Homo sapiens: one gene and its partner. The protein of the gene in region 1 interacts with the protein of each later gene in a biochemical or structural test. Each region holds a gene or a part of one and is shown on either strand. Other genes may lie near its edges.

Region 1 (7,895 bases):
TGGCAAACCTGAGTCATACAATATCAATAATTACAATAATGTAAATGGAATAAATACATCAATTAAATGACAAAGATTGGAAGACTGACTTAAAAAGCATGACCTAATCATACACCGTCTACAAGAAACTCACTTCAGTTATAATGATATGGACTGCTGAAAGAATGGAAAAGGATGTATCATACAAACATTAATCAAAGAAAAACAGGGCTGGCTGTATTAATATCAGATAAAATAGACTTCAGAACAAAGAAAATAACCAGAGACAGAAAGGGTCATTACATAACTATTAATACATAAGGGTAAACCCACCAATAAGATATAGGTATCTTGAACGTGTATATGCCAAACAGCTGTAAAATATGTCAAGCAAAAACTAACAGAATTAAAAGGCCAAACAGACAAACTCACCATTACAGCTCGAGATTTTAACATTAAGTAAAATGTTAACAGTATGGTTGGCAGTTTCTTATAAAACTAAACATTTAACTACCATATGACTCAGAAACTGCACTCCTAGACATTCATCTCGGAGAAATGAAGACTTTGAGTCATATAAAACCCTGTATATGAATGTTTATGGCAGTTGTATTGGTATAGCCCAAAATTGGAAACAACCCAGATGTTCTTTAACAGGTAAATTGTTAGACAATCTTTGGTACACTCATAACAAGAAATGCTACTCGGAAATAACAAGGATTAAACTGTCAATACATGCAATAACCTGGAATGTATCTCCAGAGAATTATACTGAGTGAAAAAGTCAATCCGAAAAAATTGCAACTGCAAGATTCCATTTATATAATATTCTTAAAATGACAAAATCATAGAAATGGAGAATAGTGGTTGCCAAAGGCTAAGGAAAATGTGGTGATAGGAAGGAAGTCTGTGCCTATAAAAGGGCAACAGGAGAGATCTTGTGGTGACGGAAGTGTCCTGTATCTGTGTCAACATCAATATCCTAGTTGTGATATTCTGCAACAGTTTTGTAAGTTTTTCCCATTGGAGAAAACTAGGAAAAAGGTGCATGAGAACTCCGTATTTTTTCTTAAAACTATATGAATCTGCAATGATCTCAAAATAGAAAGCTTAACGGAAAAAAAAATACGTGATATTATCAGACAATGACTCTGTACGTTTACTATGCACAGTCCCCAAACTGGAAGAACTAGCAAAGGATTCAAGAAGGAAACAATACCACAAGGAAGGAGCAGCAGATAAGCAGCTGAGCTGTCCATCAATTCTTTTTCTGTGTGGTGATACATGTATTTAGATAACGCAGATAAAACTATAAGGAGATAATGAATTATTCCTTGGTAGATGATGAGAATCCAACTTCATGAGGAGTTTCAGTTAGTGCTGAATTACCTGGATCTCACAGAAATCATTCTGGCAGGAATGCATCATGTTCTCTCAGAGTGTTCAATGTTTGCTGGTTTGCAGCAATGATGATCTCACTCATCATGACTCCATATCAGAATATGGCAGAATCTGTACTAGTTTTATGGGTTTATTTTGTATTTTTAATCTGTGGTTTTTTCTTTTTCCTTGCTTAACAGTGGATGACATATATATAGCATACCATGTGTATGTTTTATATGTTAAGTGTATAGTGCTTAACAACTACAGAAAGGCTTAACAGGAACAGGTGAATAGCCATATTACAGAGTAATTAATGAAGGCAAAATGCCTATGTAGGTTATATAACTAAGTGTCAACTGGTTAAATAATTGTGCCCACTTAAATTAGATTCGGTGTTTATTATAGTGAACGTTAACTTGAGGGCTCAAATTCACAATAAATTTTTCTCACTCAGTTTATAATTATATTCACCTGATAAGGGTTTTCTCCAGAATGAATTAAGATTGAAGGGAAAGACCACACCCCAAAACAGAAAATCTAAAACAGATACATCCTACTAATGTACTTTTAACTTTCCGTATGAGAAAAGTCAAATGAGATAATAGGAAAGGTATCAAATAATTAGAATTCAATCTTGAGCAAATGTCAGCCATTCAGGAACACAGACAAAATAAAGACCAGGAAAAAAAGGTCTCCTAGCCACTGAAATAGCAAACATAAAGCCAAAAAAGATTAACTCTACAGGAGACACCTCATTTGGAATTGACTGACTTGTTTTACATTCACTTCAAGCAGCCTCTATTACCTAATGCCCCAAACTGCAGTAGATCAAAGGTATATACTAAAGTAGGACTGTGAACTACAGGCACAAAGGCAGATGGGGACAGCAGGGGATGAGCTAGAAAGTGGCCGTAATAGCACAGCACATTCTGTGCAGCAGTCAATAGTCAATGATGACCTTGAGTGTTCAAGAAAATTAAGCCATATTCAGCAGACACGATGACCTCTGCCTTCCTAGTTTTTTCCCCAAGCAATCGTCTTGCTTTCAAGATTTCCAAATGTCAGAAAGGAAGCACGGATGTATGGCCTCTGACTGTATGATGCATTTCATGTGTCCTACTTCCTGGCAGAAAAGGCTAAGTGCTGTGGTATAGCACTAGAATTTGGGTAGAATGGAGTCATTTAAAGAAGGTTTCCTTCTTTAGGAATTAAAGGCTTAGGGTCTGTGATTACGAAAACTGAGATAAGAGATGCTGAAGGTTCTGAGAAGGAATAGGCTTTAAGGTAAAATAATAAGTTGCCAATTCAGAGATTAAGTTGAAAATACCTGTAAGCCAACACAGTGGAGATTTGGGGAAGCAGTTCTTATAAGGGCCGAATATGAAAAGAGAAGCTAAGTAAGATAAAGGCTGCCAAGTGTCCACTGACTGATCATCAGCATCTCTGGTGAAACCAACATCATTTCAGGTGGGGGCAAAATCCTAATTACAGTCAGTTGAAGAATGAAGGAAGTAAAACTGTTGACAAAAAGTACTGACAGCTCTTATAAGCAGTTTAGCTGTGAGGGAAAGGAGAGACAGAGGTGGTTAAAGGAGGAAGGCGCAAAGTCAGGAAGCTACCAGTGGAAAGGGAAAAGGAGGGGAACAGACATGATGGGTGAAGTGGGGACTTGAAGCTTTAGAGATGGGGTCCAAAGTAGAAGGCTGGGGTTAGTTTTAAACAACAGAGACCTTCTGAGACAACATGGAAAGGGTTAAGGATGAGGTAAGCAAGTTTGCAGACATGGCATCTTTTCCTTACATCTACTGGTGGTCATCTACTAGGAGTGAGAGAATGGGCTTGAGGAGATGTGTGAAGGTTTAAAATAGCTGATGTGGAGAGAGAGGTGGCCAGGATAAGAAAAATGATTGCTAAGTATTACTGAGTACCCAGCTGGAAGCAGAGACCATACATCTGCAATGATCTCAATCTAAAAGGAGCTCTGTCTGCACAGCAGGCAAGGCAGATGGCTGGGTAGCCAGGGCTGGAGCTGTGCAAAGTGTGTGTAGTTGAAAGAAAAAGAAGGACGAGGTGGAAGGAAAAGCCATGAGTCTTATCTGAAGAGAGAGCAGCTCATTGCCTGAAAAGAAGAAAGGGGCCAGGCATGGTGGATCATGCCTGTAATCCCAGCATTTTGGGAGGCCAAGGTGGGTGGATCACTTGAGGTTAGGAGATCGAGACCAGCCTGGCCAACATGGTGAAACCCCGTCTCTACTAAAAATACAAAAATGAGCCAGGCGTGGTGGCGCACACTTGTAATCCCAGCGACTCAGGAGGCTGAGGCACGAGAATCACTTGAACCTAGGAGGTGGAGGTTGCAGTGAGCTGAGATAATGCCACTGCACTCCAGACTGGGCAACAGAGTGAGACTCTGTCTCAGAAAAAAAGAAGAAAGGGAGGAGATGGACCAGCAGCCTGAAGCTCTTACAGTGAAGACTGGATGGAGTTGGAGTGGTCAGAATGGGATAGGTGACAAAGTCCAGGGAGCAGTCAGGGAAGTGAGTACCTGAAGAGGTGGTAGAAGAGACCTGACTTCATCTTGACTAAAGTCAAGGAACTGTGGAGCGGAGTTGTTGATTGACCTCTGCAAGGACAATGCAGTGACCTAGGATCAGTCAGGAGTTAGAGCAAAGAGCAAGACCATATGATAGATGACCTTGTTGAAAAAGGACTATCCCCAGGGTCATCAGATAACAGCAACGAGGAGCTGGCAGAGGACAGAATATAAGATGACATGTACTTTAAAGGACAAAAAGTTTTGGTACAATGGTCAGGGAGGAATTGAACAGTGGGAACCTTGATGAAATGCTGGTTAGGAGAGGTGGAAGGTTTGGGCAGCAGAAGAGCACACGACCTGTAGAGGAGCGGGAAGAATAAGAAGTAAAGGAGGTGGAACAGGCAGCAAAAGCTAATCATGGGACTCTGCAGTGTGCCTGTAGGAGCCGCGGTTTACCTAAGCCTGAATTAAACGTTGTCGGCACAGCGGAATCCTGACGCTTGTAAATTTAACATTTGCAGCACAGACTCCCAACAATTGCTCCAGGTTCGTGATTGGGTCTTTGATTTTCCTGACCCATTCGTTGGGATCACACACACTGAGGAGGCTGATTTGAGGAAGGCAGTTACTTAGCAGGCCAACTCTTTGTTACTTTCCACTGATATAATAATAATTTATATAAATATAAATAATTATATATAAATTATAAATAATTATATATAAATTGTAAATAATTTATATATAAACTATATATATTATATATATCTATATTATATATAGATATATAGTTCTTCTAAAGTGGAAAACTACTCCCATCCTGGCCCAGGAGGCTCTTGTATCCTCATGAACCCAGGTTCCAGGTGCTGTGGAAGCTGCCTAGGGACAGTGGTGCAGATGCTGTGTGGCAAGCTGTAAGATAGTCAGCACAGCTGCTCAAGTCACTACGACGAAGAACTTTGGAATGAAACCCAATTTGCTTACCTTTTAATCATGTAAACTGGCCCTAATTTAACTTTCCTTTGCATCTTTCAGGGTAAACAGTAACTTAAACCATGTTAAGAAGTCAGCTCAAAAGACTCTGAAACCCAATAGATCCAGGAGGTAAGGATGGGGAAGAATTAAAAATGGACTCTAACTTTATCTTCTAGGCAAACACAGGAAAAATAGAAGATGGGGCATAGGCGTGAATAATTTGTTGGGTTTGGGACGTACTGCATTCAGATGCCTGTAGGCCACCCAGGTGTAGTTAGGTAGCTGAAAAAAAGATCTGTAGTTTGAGTGAAGGATGTGACTAGAAATATAGATGTTACAGTCATCAGAGCATCAGCAGTAAAGTCACAGGCATGGATTGGAATACTTTACAGTTCAAATGACCATGAGAAAGAATATTTTGTTTTTTCAAAAAACCATGCTTTCAAAGTTCTCGAGCATGGAGTCATTACATGCCTCCCTGGACCAACAGCACCTGCACGGCCCGGGAGCTGGTCAGATGCCGATCTCCCTCACCCTCCAAGTCAGGATCTACATTTTAATACACCAGGGGACTCGTGTGCACATTAGTTTGATAAGCCACTGGTGCAATGTTTCCCAAACTTTGGTACTTGAAATGTTCACCAGCTTTCAGTGAATGAGAAAAAGAAAATGACAAACATGTATAATCATATATTTATTCAACTTGAAGAAATGTCCTTTGTTTTGGTGTTACAGGATTCCTTTGTTGACATGTTTACCTGTTCCATCTTTCATGAAATTAAGGTAAAGGGCAATTGGGGTGATTTCCCTAAGAGCAAGTTATTTCATACTTTATTGGAACCAGGTGACTTTGAAATGCTATTTATACACGGGCACGGTGGCTCACGCCTGTAAACCCAGCACTCTGGGAGGCTGAGAAGGGCGGGATCATGAGGTCAGGAGTTTGGAGGCCAGCCTGACCAACATAGTGAAACCCCGCCTCTACTAAAAATACAAAAAAAAAATTAGCTAGGTGTGGTGGCGGGCGCCTGTAGTCCCAGTTACTTGGGAGGCTGAGGCAGGAGAATCGCTTGAACCCGGGAGGTGGAGGTTGCAGTGAGCCGAGATTGTGCCACTGCACTCCAGCCTGGGCAACAGTGAGAGACTCTATCTCAAAGAAAAAAAAAAAAAAAAAAAAGGAAAAGAAATGCTATTTCCTTTACCAAGGATATCTTCTTCACTTCATCTTGCCTTGTCATCCTAAATTTCTCATGAATCGTATTTTGATGAGCAAAGCCTATATTTTAGTTTCTTAGGGCTGCCATCACAAAGAACCACAAACTGGGAAGCTTAAAACAACAGAAGTTTATTGTCTCACAGTTCTGGAGGCCGGGCATTCAAATTCAGAGTGCTGACAGGGTCAAGGTCTCTCTGAAGGCTCAAGGGAAGGATCCCTCCTTGCCTCTCTCTAGCTTCTGGTGGTTGCCAGCCACCCCTTGGCACTCCTTGGCTGGTAGATGCATCCCTCCAATCTTGGCCTCCATCCTCACATCTCTTTCTCTCTGAATGCATTTGTGTCTAAGTTTCCCTCATCTTATAATGACACCAGTCACTGAATTAGGGCTCACCATAATTCAGTACGATGACCTCATCTTAACTTGATTACATCTGCAAAGACCTTATTTCCAAATGCGGTCACATTCACAGGTACTAGGGGTTAGGACTTAAACAGATATTTTGGGGAACACAATTCAACCTGAACAGCCTAAAATGATACATTTTTAAGGAAAATATTCTGATAATTCTCAAAATTATATGGCAAATACTGTAATACTGTGCTGTTTTCAAAATGAAGCACAAAATAAAAACATTAAGAGTATATTTTAATAAAAATGAGCATAGAACCAGCAATTTGAATTGTATTCTTCTGTTTCATTTGTTATTCCCATTGTAGACGGCATAAACTCTAATATATGTAGAGATTTTGTATTAGATTTTTCCTCACTCTCGAACTGCCCCAGCACTTAATTTCAAAAGAAATTCCTGGCATTTTCCCACTACATATACTTTTCAGCTCCTTTCTGAACATCGCTGCTTAGCATCAAAATTACTTTCAGCCAATTTGTAATCTCCCAGGTCTCAGATGGCTGAAGCAGAGTTCCTTGGGAAGTCCCAAGCCATACTAACTGGCCAGGGCTTTAAGAATGTAGTGTATCTAATGGCATTTGGTAGAACTGTTTCATATTCAGACTAAGGGTTTCATCCAAAACCTAAGATTTCAATTTGTTTCACGATATTACATAAAGTACAGTATTCATGTGGTGACTTCAAAGCAACAAAAATGTTCAACACTACTCAGTCTATGGAAGGTGAAATACTGTTTTAATATGTTAAAAAGCATATTAAATGAACACATTAATGAGAGGTAGCTCATAAACAGTACATTTCAGCAGGGCACAGTGGCTCATGCCTGTGATCTCAACATTTTGGGAGGTGGAGGCACGAGGATCACTTGAGCCCAGGAGTTCGGGATGAGACTGAGCAACAGACAGAGACCTCGTCTCTACAAAAAAAATTAAAAAAAAAAAAAAAATTAGCCAGGTGTGGTGGCATGCACCTGTGGTCCCAGCTACTCAGGAGGCTGAAGTGGGAGGATCACTTGAGATGGGGAGATGGAGGTGGCAGTGAGCCGTGATTGTGTCACTGCACTCCAGCATGGGTGACAGAGCGAGGTCCTGTCTCAAAAAAAAAAAAAAAAAAAAAGGGAAACAAAAACCCAGTACATTTCATTCCTCATCTCTCTGTCAAGCTACACAGAGCCTCCTTTTACAGAAGAGCAAATAAGCACAGAGTACAAAGGAGTTTAAAGGTTAGGCAAACATTCCTTCACCAGCTCAGAGGCAAATGTCCAGAAGAGAGCCTGACTGTTTCACTTTTAAGGAACAATGCTGTATAAATATGGCCACTGATACGTCAAAGTGACAGCCTAGGACTTGGTTCTAGGTGACTTTTACTTCAGCTTGGCAAACTTCAACTGTCCTGCTTG
Region 2 (7,271 bases), on another chromosome or scaffold:
CTGCAGAGCGAGCCGCCCTTGGCCCATTTCCTTTCCCACCTCTGCTCCTGTCCTACCTGATGGCTTCAAATCCCGGTGACCTTTGGGACCAGCCTCATGGCTCTACCCAGCAGTTCCCCAAATTTCATCTCTTTGTAAGCCATGGTCACCATTTTGCTAGATTGAGTGGTAGTTATTAATACTTTCCTTAAATTGAGTTAATTATTATTTTTTGAGATAGTCTCGTTCTGTTGCCCAGGCTGGACTGCAGTGGAATGGTCTCGGCTCACTGCAAACTCCGCCTCTTATGTTCAAGCAATTCTCCTGCCTCAGCCTCCTGAGTAGCTGGGATTACAGGTGCGTACCACCAAGCCCGGCTAATTTTTGTACTTTTTTTTTTAGTAGAGATAGGGTTTCACCATGTTGGCCAGGTTGGTCTCGAACTCCTGACCTCAGGTGATCTGCCTGCCTCGGCCTCCCAAAATGCTGGGATTACAGGTGTGAGCCACCATGCCCGGCCTAGTTTTTTAAATCCATATGGGATATATATATAGACATTTTGCAGTTGGTGAAGTTACTTCTCTTTAATACTCTCTTTATAAAATAGGGATAATAATGGTACTCATCACCCTGTGCCATCTACATGATTTACAAGGCCCAGTGCAAAATTCCCGGCCTGGAGCAGAGCACAGAAGTCAGACTCCCCCTTACTACAGCCCTAATGGATTGCAACTTCCCTGCAGGGATGGGACAGGTGAGAGGCCCCTGCCCACTTGCCTGCCTAATGTGCTGTGGTACCAGCCACCCTGCCCTGAGATTCGGAGGGTGCAATCCCAACGCTGCCTGGGCAAGAGTGGGATCAGGGAGGGTAGGGAGAAGCCCCAGGGCAGCTCGAGTGGGCCAGGGCAACTGAGAACCTGTCCCATTGGACTTCACTTAAAAAACACAAATTCAAAGATAAAATTAAGAATTTCAAGCATGGGATACTTCTGAGTGCCTGGCCCTTTCCACCAGAGTGATCAAAGCCTGCATTGACTGTCCACCCATGAAGCTAGTCCTGCTATCACATAGGGTTGTTGTGAGGAATGAATGAATACTTGTACAGGTTTAAGACTAATGCCTGGCACCTTTGAAGGACAATATAAGTGTTGGCTATTGTTTCTATCACTTCCATAGATGGAACACAGGTATTTTTCAAATATGCATTTGTTCAGCAAACACTTATTATTCTGTGCCAGGTACTGACACATTTCATTTTATCTTTTTAATTTTTTCCTTGATTCTGCATTAAAGGAAAGAAATTCTAGCAGGGAAGAACTTTTATTATTTGCTTACTCCTGCCACGAAATATCTAAGAGGCCTCCAGGAGACGCCATGCCTTGACTTTCAGTACTGACTGTCAATGAGTATGCAACTCAGCATCCACTGATGTGTGGAAAAGTCTCGGGAAAAGGTGTCAAGCTAGAGGGCAGTAGATTCCCGGCCTGCCCAGGCTCTCATCATCCTCTAATGCTATTTTCCACTGCCAGGATCTCAAAACGAGTCAGCCTTTCAACTTTACTCAGTAATTATTCTTGACCACTGAAAATCTCACAATTCACTACCTGGGGTCAGTGCATCTACAGCAAAGGTACCAGTGGATGGGGAGGAATCAGGAAGCCTCGAGTGTGTGCTATGATGCTCCTTGGAAGGCACCACAACCTTTCCTCAGCTCTGTCCCAGCATTTTCTATGAAGTTGGCAATGTTCTATTATGTGCTATCTCATACAGTAGCCACTGGCCACACACAGGCTACTGAGCATTTAAAATGTGGCCGCTGTAATCGAGGAACAAGTTTTTTTTTTTTTTTTTTTTTTTGAGACAGAGTCTCGCTCTGTCACCCAGGCTGGAGTGCAGTGGCGCGATCTCGGCTCACTGCAACCTCTGCCTCCCAGGTTCAAGCGATTCTCCTGCCTCAGCCTCCTGAGTAGCTGGGACTACAGGTGCATGCCAACACACCCAGCTAATTTTTTGTATTTTTAGTAGAGACGGGGTTTCACCATGTTGGCCAGGATGGTCTCGATCTCTTGACCTCGTGATCCACCCGCTTCGGCCTCCCAAAGTGCTGGGATTACAGGCGTGAGCCACCGCTCCCGGCCGAGGAACTCAATTTTTAATTCAATTTAAAAGTACTGAATTTCAATTGATTCAGTTAGAAATTGAGGAATCCGGCCGGGCGCGGTGGCTCAAGCCTGTAGTCCCAGTACTTTACGAGGCCGAGGCAGGTGTATCACAAGGTCAGGAGTTCAAGACCAGCCTGGCCAAGATGGTGAAACCCCGTTTCTACTAAAAATATGGGAGGGGGGTGGGGGCGGGGAACTTAGCCGAGCGTGGTGGTGGGCACCTGTAATCCCAGCTACTCGGGAGGCTGAGGCGGGAGGGAGGATCGCTTGAACCCGGGAGGCAGAGGGTGCAGTGAGCCGAGATCGCACCACTGCACTCCAGCCTGGGCGACAGAGCAAGACCCGGTCTCAAAAAAATAAAAATAAATAAAAACAAAAACACACACACAAAAACATATGCGTGCTGTTGTATTGGATAGCACAGCTCTGGATGTCTGGCGTTAGAGGGCTAAGTTACTTAACTCTTACTATCACTGATATGCTGGCACTCTGTTCATTACAAGGGCTGAAAAGGTCTTTAAGAGATCATCGGGTGACTTTAAAATCCCCATCTCACAGGCAGAGGTGAGCGGAGGCGCCGCTGGTCCGCTGCGCGCAGGGCCCACGCCCTCCCAACACCCGCCGGCGCTCCACTCCCGCACTGAACGGCTGAAAAGCAGAACAGTGCTGGCTCCGTTTCGTGTGTGGAGTTACTACAGAGTTCCGAAGCCCGGACGCGCACACGTCCTTCACCTAGTTAGTGGGAGAGCATAGAGGCGCGGGTGCGGGAGCGCGCTCAGGCACGCGGGGCTGCGGGGGGCGGTCTCGGCTGGGCCGCCGGAGTAAAGACCCAGGCGCAGCCAGGCGCCGCCCGCCCGCCAACAGCTCGCGTAACCTCCCGGAACGGCCAGTGCCCTCCCAGCCCGGCCCCCACCGCGCCCGCGCCGGCGGCCAGCGGGGACACGCGAGTCCGCCGCGGGACAGACCCGGCCCGAGCCTACCTGCGCGCGCCGTGCCGTCCCCGCTGTCCCCGCCGCCCAGCCCCGCGGCCGCGCGCAGCGCGCTCCCGCAGCTCGCCGACAGGTTCCCGGTGGCCCTGCGTGCCAGGGTCAGGATGGGCGCCGACCAGCCCTCGGCCGCCCGCGGCCTCGTTGCGCTCCGCAGGTCGCCTGGGCCGGGCAGCTGGCTTCGGTCCACGATCTCAAACTCTTCTCCCGGCTCAAGCGCTGACCCGGGCCCCGGCCCCGGCTCCAGCTCCGGCTCCAGCTCCCGCCCCCGCCCAGCAGCGCAGCCGCCTTCCCGGTCGGCCATCTTGGCCGTGTCATGTGACCCAGCGGGCGGGCGGGCGCGGGGTGGGGGCGGGCGGGCATCGCCTTTGCCTTAGGTGGGGGAGATTTTTCTCCCTCTTCACCGCCTCGCCTTCCCTCTGTTTCGAAAGGTTCGGGAAAGTCCAAGTCATAACATAAAAAGTGTGCGTATTCCCGGCCGCCGGCAGGACCTGTTCGCGGGGAAGTTCCTCTTGAACTTTCTCCGAGGACAGTTGTGCACCCTGCCCGGCGCTTCACGGGGTTCCCTGGCCGTCGTTGTCTTTGTGACACCATTTCCTCTTTTAAATTTTCATTTCATGGTCTATATTTTCCACTTCGTCATTTTTCTGTAGCACTCATTAGAACAAGCCCCGAAAGGGCGACTAAGGAAACGCACAGGCGAGGCAGGAAAGCAGGAATTTTTTTTTTTTTTTAATCTAATGACTATGACGGCTTGGCAAGAAAGAGTGCACGATAGTGGACTGGAAATCAGAGGTGGCTTCTCCTATTGATTAGTTAAGTGGGATAACAAAAACCGACCTCATTATTAAATAAGATTTGCAGTAAGGACCACATGGCAGATGTTAGCGATTGTGACTACTATCTCTGGTATCCAACTGTGTGGCCTGGGTAAGTCACTATACACTCAGTCTGTTTCTTCACTTGGAAAAGAAAGGAATTTGAGTAAGTACAAAGGAAAATTTTGGCCGGGCGCGGTGGCTCACGCCTGTAATCCCAGCACTTCGGAAGGCCCAGGCGGGCCTTTAGTAGGACGAAACCCCGTCTCTACTAAAATACCAAAACAACAACAACAACAACAACAAAAAACCAGCCAGATGTCGTGGCGGGACAGCTCTACTCCTAGCTCCTTGGGGGGCTGAGAGTGGGAGGATCGCTTGAGCCCGGGAGGTCGATCCCACAGTGAGCGGAGATCATGGCCACTGCACTCCAGGCTGGGCGACAAAGTGAGACCCTGTCTCAGAAAAAACACTAAAATTTACTAGCACTTAACACTTTGCAAAGTGAGGCAACATGAGCCACACCAAACCAGCAGAGCTGTTTTGATTCCCAGAATGTTTACAAATCTTAAAACTTGTTGCCAATATTTAGAAATCAAAAGATTTCACATAAGAATCTGGATTTTAGCTTTCTCTGGAATCACTGGAATATTTGGTAACTCATGGCATATTCCCAGATGGCAACAAACTGTTGGGAATAAACTGTGCTGCCCCTTTAGACGCCCAGCTGCTCCCTGGACCTGTCTTGGTCCAGCCCACTTCACTAGGTTGCATGATATGTCTGGTCCCTGAAAGGCCAGTTCTCAGTGAAGGGATACCACTTCATCTAGGAGTGTTTTGGGAATTTGTGGAGTTGGTGTTTGAGTTGTGTAATGACTGAGGGCATACTACCAGTCTTTTTTGTTTGTTTGTTTTCGTACGGAGTCTCGCTCAGTCGCCCAGGCTGGAGTGCAGTGGCGCGATCTCGGTTCACTGCAAGCTCCACCTCCCGGGTTCACGCCATTCTCCTGCCTCAGCCTCCCGAGTAGCTGGGACTACAGGTGCCCGCCACCACGCCCGGCTAATTTTTTTTTTTTTTTGTATTTTTAGTAGAAACGGGGTTTCACCGTGTTAGCCAGGATGGTCTTGATCTCCTGACCTCGTGATCCGCCAGCCTCGGCCTCCCAAAGTGCTGGGATTAGAGGCGTGAGCCACCACGCCCGGCCTGGTCTTGTTTGTTTGTTTGTTTTTGAGGCCAAGTCCTGCTCTGTCACCAAGCTGGAGTGCAGTGGCGCAATCTCGGCTCACTGTAACCTCTGCCTACCGGGTTCAAGCGATTTTCCTGCCTCAGCCTCCCAAGTAGCTGGGACTGCAGGGGCGTGGCGCCACACTTGGCTAATTTTTGTACTTTTAGTAGAGACGGGGTTTCACCATGTTCGCCAGGATAGTCTCGATCTCTCGACCTCGTGATTCCCCCGCCTCGGCCTCTCAAAGTGTTGAGATTACAGGCGTGAGCCACTGAGCCCGGCCCTACTAGTCTTTACTGGATGCATAGACAGGGATGAAGATAGTCTAGAATAACAGCATTGTCCCGAATCCTTCATGACTTTCCAATGCTACTGGACATTTATGTAGGTGAAAAGTTTGTTTATAATGATCAGGGCGTGGAACCGAATTCCATTTTGTATAAAAACATTAACTCTTTTTTGGGGGAACAGTTTCAACATTTATCAGGCAAGGTTATTCTTCAGTAACAACCCCCAAATCTCAATGGCTTAACCTAAAAGCTGGTTTCTCATCATGCTACATGTCAATGTAGATGGGGTGAGTACTCTGCCCAACTCATTGTAGTCTCTCAGGACCCAGCCTGTTGGGAGTTTTGCATAAATATTACATGCTCCAGTCCTGCATGACAAAGGTCACTTATGCACATTTCATTGGTGAAAGCAAATCACATGGCCACGTTTAATTTCTAGGGAGTTGGGAAGTTCAGACCTATTTCTGTCTGGGAAAACCACAACTGGGAATCTTTGTGAGCAGTGTAATGACTACCATAAGTGTACCCTAAATTTTCCTGGAACGTAGCTAAATTGATTTGTTCAGAATTACACGTGCAAATGTCTATGTTATTTCAGTGGTAGTTGTGCCTCGTTTACATATTGAAATATATCTCATTTTATAGTGCTTCGCTTTATTGCTTTTTTAACAAATTAAAGTTTTTGGCAGCCGGGCACGGTGGCTCACGCCTGTAATCCCAGCACTCTGGGAGGCACAGGTGGGTGGATCACCTGAGATCAGGAGTTCGTGACCAGCGTGGCCGACATGGCGAAACCCCGTCTCTACTAAAAACACAAAAATTAGCCAGGCGTGGTGGTGGGAGCCTATAATCCCAGCTACTCTGGAGGCTGAGGCAGGAGAATCGCTTGAACCTGGGAGGCAGAGGTTGCAGTGAGCCGAGATCGAACCACTGCACTCCAGCCTGGGCGACAAGTGCAAAAAAAACTGCGTCTCAAAAAAAGAAAAAGTTGCTGTTGGCAACCCAACAGCACGTGCTTATTTTGTGCCTCTGTTTCACATTTTCGTAATTCTCAAAATATTCTAAACTTTTAAACTACCCTTACATCTGTTATATGATTTGTGATCTGTGATCTTTGGTGTTACTATTATTAATTGTTTTGGGGCACCACAAACTGCACCCATATAAGATGGTAAACTTAATTGATAAATGTTGTATGTGTTCTTACTGCTCCACCAACCACGTGTTTCCTTCTCCCTTACCCTCTCCTCGGGCCTCCCTGTGCCCTGAGACACAATATTGAAATTAGGCCAATTAGGCCGTGGCTCAAACCTGTAATCCCTGCACTTTGGGAGTCTAAGGTGGGCAGATCACTTGCGATCAGGAGTTCCAGGCCAACATGGTGAAACCCTGTCTCTACTAAAAATACAAAATTAGCTGGGTGTGGTGGCAGGCACCTGTAATACCAGCTACTGGGGAGGCTGAGGCACGAGAATTGCTTGAACCTGGGAGGCGGAGGTTGCAGTGAGCTAAGATTGCATCACTGCACTCCAGCCTGGGCGATAGAGTGAAACTCCATCTCCAACCAAAAAAAAGAAAAGAAAAAGGAAAAGAAATTAGGCCAATTAATAACCGTACAATGGCCTCTGAGTGTTCAGGTAAAAGGAAGAGTTGCATGTCTCTCTCTTTATATCAAAAGCTAGAAATGATTAAGCTTAATGAGGTAGGCACGTCAAAAGCCGTGATGGGCCAAAAGCTTGGCCTCTTGCACACAGTTAGCCAAGTTGTGAATGCAAAGGAAAAGTTCTTGCTGGAAATTAAAAGTGCTACT

The links. Proteins that work in one complex are often made in the same cells at the same time.
Region 2: the proteins of RAB4A (region 1) and RUFY1 form a complex in vitro, tested with the Homo sapiens proteins (2 studies listed by BioGRID).

The regions. Positions count from the first base shown.
Region 1 is NC_000001.11:229,273,767-229,281,661, reverse strand, and holds part of RAB4A (ras-related protein Rab-4A), read right to left. Parts: intron 1-7,895. UniProt on the Homo sapiens protein: The small GTPases Rab are key regulators of intracellular membrane trafficking, from the formation of transport vesicles to their fusion with membranes.
Region 2 is NC_000005.10:179,546,730-179,554,000, reverse strand, and holds the start of RUFY1 (RUN and FYVE domain-containing protein 1), read right to left. Parts: upstream 3,448-7,271; 5' UTR 3,432-3,447; coding exon 3,122-3,431; intron 1-3,121. UniProt on the Homo sapiens protein: Activating adapter involved in cargo sorting from early/recycling endosomes. Regulates retrieval of proteins from endosomes to the trans-Golgi network through interaction with the dynein-dynactin complex.